Regions from separate parts of the Homo sapiens genome. Here region 2 is linked to region 1. The links come from fine-mapping of genetic effects on gene expression. Tissue or cell type: monocytes after LPS. Region 1 holds a variant in brackets; the other region holds the start of a gene. All regions are shown on one strand. Distances are from middle to middle.

Evidence for each region. PIP is the estimated chance that this variant, and not a neighbour inherited with it, causes the effect.
Region 2: RPP38 starts here. The variant in region 1 is fine-mapped to the expression of RPP38 in monocytes after LPS (Quach 2016, PIP 0.95). The same link has a PIP of 0.9 or more in monocytes.

Annotation. Positions count from the first base shown.
Region 1 is chr10:15,162,218-15,164,904 of GRCh38, forward strand. The region is part of intron 1 of NMT2 (N-myristoyltransferase 2); the gene reads right to left. Among named protein-coding and RNA genes, the nearest start is that of NMT2, 5.1 kb to the right of the region's middle. The variant G/A (reference allele first, on the strand shown) is at 1,507.
Region 2 is chr10:15,096,102-15,098,788 of GRCh38, forward strand. RPP38 (ribonuclease P/MRP subunit p38) reads left to right here and starts at 1,254. Exons shown (of 3, transcript NM_183005.5): 1 at 1,254-1,665. RPP38-DT (RPP38 divergent transcript) reads right to left here and starts at 1,218. Exons shown (of 2, transcript NR_160789.1): 1 at 986-1,218; 2 at 1-764. RefSeq lists enhancers at 799-1,370, 1,672-1,761, 1,822-1,961 and a silencer at 1,172-1,531.

The DNA.
Region 1 (2,687 bases):
CTCCAGCCCAGATGACAGAGTGAGACCTTGTCTCAAAAAAAAAAAAAAAAAAAAAGTGTACAGATAATCCACAGAAGAAAAAAAGAATGAAAACTAGACATATTCTACCAAAGACAGGAAATAAAATACAGAAATTTTTGAGTACCAAGAAAGCTTATAAACAAAATTCAAAGACTGAATATGATCTGAGCTGTCCAGTATGATAGCCACTAGTCACATGGAGCTATTTAAATTTAAATTAATTCAAATAAAATAAAAACATTCAGCTCAGTCACACTTGTCACATGCAAGTGCTCCATGTGTTGATGACTGCCCAACTGGATTACTATCACCCCAGAAAGTTCCAGCACACAACAATAAGAGTCAGCGAAACATACATGGTAACAAATGCACCCAGGTACAGTAAGATCCCAGCGATGTTAAACACACACACATATTAAAAAGTGAGTTCATTAAACTATCAGTGGTGACAGCTCTGGGAAATAAGGTGACCAGGGGCTTTCACTCTACCTTATATACCTTATTGTTTGATATATATATATATTTTATTTATATATATATTTGATTTATATATCTCTATGTATTTGATATTATATATCTGTATTTGATATTTATATATCTCTATATATTTGATATTTATATATCTATATATTTGATATCTTTTGATATTTATATATGTGATATATATAAATATATACATATAAGAGAGAGATATATATATATGTATATTTTTAGACAGAGTCTCATTCTGTTGCCCAGGCTGGAGTACAGTAGTGCGATCACAGCTCTCTGGGCTGAAGCAATTCTCCCATCTCAGCCTCCCAAGTAGCTGGAACTATACGCATGCACCACCATGTCTAGCTCATTTTTTATTTCATCGAGATAGGGTCTTGCTATGTTCCCCAGGTTGATCTTGAATTCTTGGCCTCAAGCGATCCTCCACCTTGGCTTCCCAAAGCACTGGGATGACAGGCATGAGCCACCACACCTGGCCCTATTGTTTGATTTTTGAATAAGCGTATTTTTAAAACGTCATTAACATGTTTTCAAAGAAAACAACAATCAATTTCTTGAACTTGGAGTAGAACTTGGTTCTGTTAAAATAAAGTGATTTTAACTAGTATAGATGTATAACGTACATTTGCACTAACAAACAAAGATGGCAAAGTATGTGTCCTATATTTAGACAACCCTGGAAAAAATTTGTTCTGGGCCAAAGGGTGACATCACCCATTCAGATGCAAGTCTTAGCAGACACTTGATCATTTCAAACAGTAGTTCTTGATTTGAGGAGGTCCCTCAGGCAAAGACTGTCGTTAATCTATTTTTCCATTTAGATTTATACAGTTGATAACAGATCAAATTTCAGAAAGGGCAGCTTTGAGTTATCCCTAAATTTTCCATAAGAAAAACTTATTGCAAGTCATAATGTTTCTGCATTTTCCCACTGATACCACACAGCTGACAAAGGGGAAGTTCCCAACTCAATTTCAACAACAGACATAT[G/A]AAGTCAGATACAACAACATAGTGCCCAAAGAAGAACTTCCTTTTTTTACCCCCTAAATTGGGGATGGTAGAAGACAGATTATGTTCTTTGTTAAAAGAATTCCAAAGTTTTCATCTTTGTCCAATACCAGATCTTCAATCTTTCTAAGAAAAAGAACTCTTAAAAACGTCTTAGGCCGGGGACGGTGGCTCACGCCTGTAATCCCAGCACTTTGGGAGGCCGAGGCGGGCGGATCACAAGGTCAGGAGATGGAGACCATCCTGGCTAACATGGTGAAACCCCGTCTCTACTAAAAATACAAAAAAATTAGCCAGGCGTGGTGGCGGGCGCCTACTGTAGTCCCAGCTACTCCGGAAGCTGAGGCAAGAGAATGGCGTGAACCTGGGAGGCAGAGCTTGCAGTGAGCCGAGATCGCGCCACTGCACTTCAGCCTGGGGGACAGAGCGAGAATTGGTCTCAAAAAAAAAAAAAAAAAAAAAAAAGGTCTTAACCCTATTTCATGTCTACCCCAGGGACTAATTTAGTCATGTATCTGCCAACAAAAACATACTCACCTATGTTTATTTTGGTTCCTATATAAATCTTCTTAGTAGCTGCTTCCAGTGAATATTGAGGGAAAAGCTCTCTTAACGGAAAGCTATGAGAAACATCTATTTTTCTAGGAAGTATATGCTCTCTGTAAGTCAATGTTGGTTAAGCAAGGGGACAGATTTGGTTTTGTTACCAAAGTTCAACACGAATTTTATTTGACTCTGTCTCCAACAATGGACCATAACATTAGCTCAGTAAGAGATCATGACCAATACCAAATGTATTTCATAACTGGAGAAGCCGGACATCAAAAGGACAGCGAGAAGACAGTGGGTTCTAAATAATTCTTCAACAATTTGGCCTGTCCTCAATGTCCCCAAAGCCCTTCAGAAGAAAGTAACAGAAGGCAAAAACACAGCAAAATGAGGGAAGTATTAAAGATCCTTGAGCATCTTAACCTCAGATCCAACGGTGAAAGCTCCTAGGAAATTCATCCTCCAGGCCGGGCACCATGGCCTGTAATCCCAGCACTTTGGGAGGCCGAGGCCAGGGGATCACCTGAGGTCAGGAGTTCAAGACCAGCCTGACCAACATGGTAAAACCCCATCTCTACTAAAAATACAAAATTAGCCAGGTATGGTGGCACACG
Region 2 (2,687 bases), 66 kb before region 1:
TCAGGAGTTCGAGACCAGCCTGACTAACATGGTGAAACACCGTCTGTACTAAAAATACAAAAATTAGCTGGGCTGGTGGCCCGTGCCTGTAACCCCAGCTACTCCGGAGGCTGAGGCAGGAGAATCACCTGAACCTGTGAGGCGCTGGCTGGAGTGAGCCAGGTTCGCGCCATTGCACTCCAGCCTGGGCAACAAGGGCAAAACTCTGTCTCAACAACAATAATAATAATAAATAAAAGAAAGAAATCACAGAAACTATACCAGAAAATAGGATACAAAACCAACAGTGAGGAGATTGAGAAAAGGAGGCAGATACGTAAAGAGGAAAAGGAAGGGGGCCCAAGTAAGGCCGGAAAAAGCGGGGAGAAGGAGGAGGCTCATTAGGTCAGAAGCAACCTGCCGTCTTCTAAGTTCTGGCCAAGGGTAGATCAACAGATCCAGATTCCTGAGCTTTAAAATGTTATTCGGCCGCTTCATCACTTGTCCCCGACTTTGCAGCGACTCCGATGGTAGCCTGAGTCTCCATTGCTTGGAGCAGCCACAGTGGACACTGGACGGGATATTCTGTGCAGCTGTTGCTGAACTCAAGGCAACTCTTACTGCCTTTCTCTTTTCGGGCTCAAGATTCCCTGCATTATTGCCCATAGGCATGTGTTTTACCCCATACTCCTTCTCCCTTTTATCTTGATTTTCGCGGTGCTGGGGAGTCTGCAGGGATTCCATGGCGACGGGCTCACTGGGACAGGGGCTGGGGTTGTGCGTCCCTGAGGCAAGGCAAATACAGAAAAGCGAATAGAGACAGAGGGCTAAGATTCCAAAGCACTGAAAGGTAGAAACTGGGTTAGAAGAGAGAGGGGAGCACAAACGCCCGGAGAGAGCGAGCCCTCGGGATACCATTGGCTATAGGCTGGCCTCCGAACAACTGGACGGTCCAAGTCCTGAGCGTCTGGTTACCCGGGCAACCGCATGGTCTCGCGATACATACCTCGCGCCTGCGCACTGCCCCTGTAGCGGGGGTGGGGGGACCCGGTCCGGAGACTCCACCCCGGGGCCTAAACTCGAGTCTAAAAGATTGGGCCTCGTTGTGTCGTTTCCGGGTCGCGCGACGCTGTGGGCCGCTTTCCCCTCTCCGGAGTGACCTAACACAGGATAACGAAACCTGCACTGCTCCGAGCGCTTCCTCCCCGGCCCGTCGCGTCTGCGAGGCGAGGCCGGGAGGCGAGGGCTCTGCGCACGCGCGGCGCAGGCGCACTGGGCGCCGGTGCTGTTGCCTTCAGGTGACCACGGATTCGCCATCGTGAGTTCCAGGTGGGCGCGCGGGGCCCACGTAGGGCAGGAGGCCAGCCCCGGGGGGATCGGGCCCGGGACTCTGCGGAATCTGGAGGCCGAAGCCCGCGCGCACGCAGGGTCTCTGCTGCTTCCCCAACGCCTGTTGCGTGGCCGCAGGACCCGCCGCCCTCCCGGTTGGGCCGCCCAGTCCCGGGCCGGGCGCGTGCACCCAGAGCTTCCGCGTTTCTAGTCCGGCTCCTCTGCTGGATTGCAGCGCCGGCTGGGCACCAGGAGTACAAAGCGAAAACCCCCGCCGGCCCTTCTGTTCTCCACGGTCTCCAAGGAGACACGGACAACAGAACAACACTTCCGTGTGCTAAATAGTAAAGCACCAAGGTACTCGATCCAGGGGCGGCGTGCAGTGGGGAGGTGAGCTTTGGGTCGGCCGTCGCCCCTCGGCTACCGGCGGGATCCAGAAACCGGGAGTCACCACCAATACCGTTCTCAACTTTACTTCCAGCTGGTCACTACTGTGTCGGGAGATTCTACCTTCTTTTCCGACTAACATGTATTTTTCTCCAGTCCTTTCTGCGGCGTCTCTAGTGCAGGCCACCGTCATTTCTAACCTGGACGACTCCAGGAGCGTCTTTGCTGCTCGGGGACTCTTCCTTTGCCCAGATCCACAAAGATCTATAACGTCTTTCTAATCACGACACCTCTGCTTTAGATGTTAAAGTTGCTTCACACTGGAACGCTTGCAAAGGTCTTCATTATCTGGTCCTTACCCACCTTTCCTAGTTTCTCACCGCTTTCTCTAGCATCTCTGCCCCAGCCACATTGAACTTATTTGAACGTGTTTTTTTTTTTTTTTTTTTTTTTGAGACATAGCAGTCGCCCAGGCTGGAGTGCAGTGGCGCGATTCCGGCTCACTGCAACCTCCGCCTGCCGGGTTCAAGCGATTCTCCTGCCTCAGCCTCCCGAGTAGCTGGGACTACAGGCGCCTGCCACCACGCCCGGCTAATTTTCGTATTTTTAGTAGAGACGGGTCACCACGTTGGTCAGGCTAGTCTCGATCTACTGACCTCAAGTGATCCGCCCGCCTGGGCTTCCCAAAGTGCTGGGATTACAGGCGTGAGCCACCTCGCCAGCCAACTTATTTCTTTTAATACTGAGATACCTTTCTTTACTCCATACTTCCTTTGGTAGGCATTGTTTAGATGTAGGTTAAGAGGTCCGGCCCGGCGCGGTGGCTCACGCCTGTAGTCCCAGCACTTTGGGAGGCCGAGGCGGGCGGATCACAAAGTCAGGAGATCGAGACCATCCTGGCCAACATGGTGAAACCCCGTCTCTACTAAAAATACAAGAATTAGCCGGGCGTGATGGCCCGTGCCTGTAGTCCCAGCTACTCGGGAGTCTGA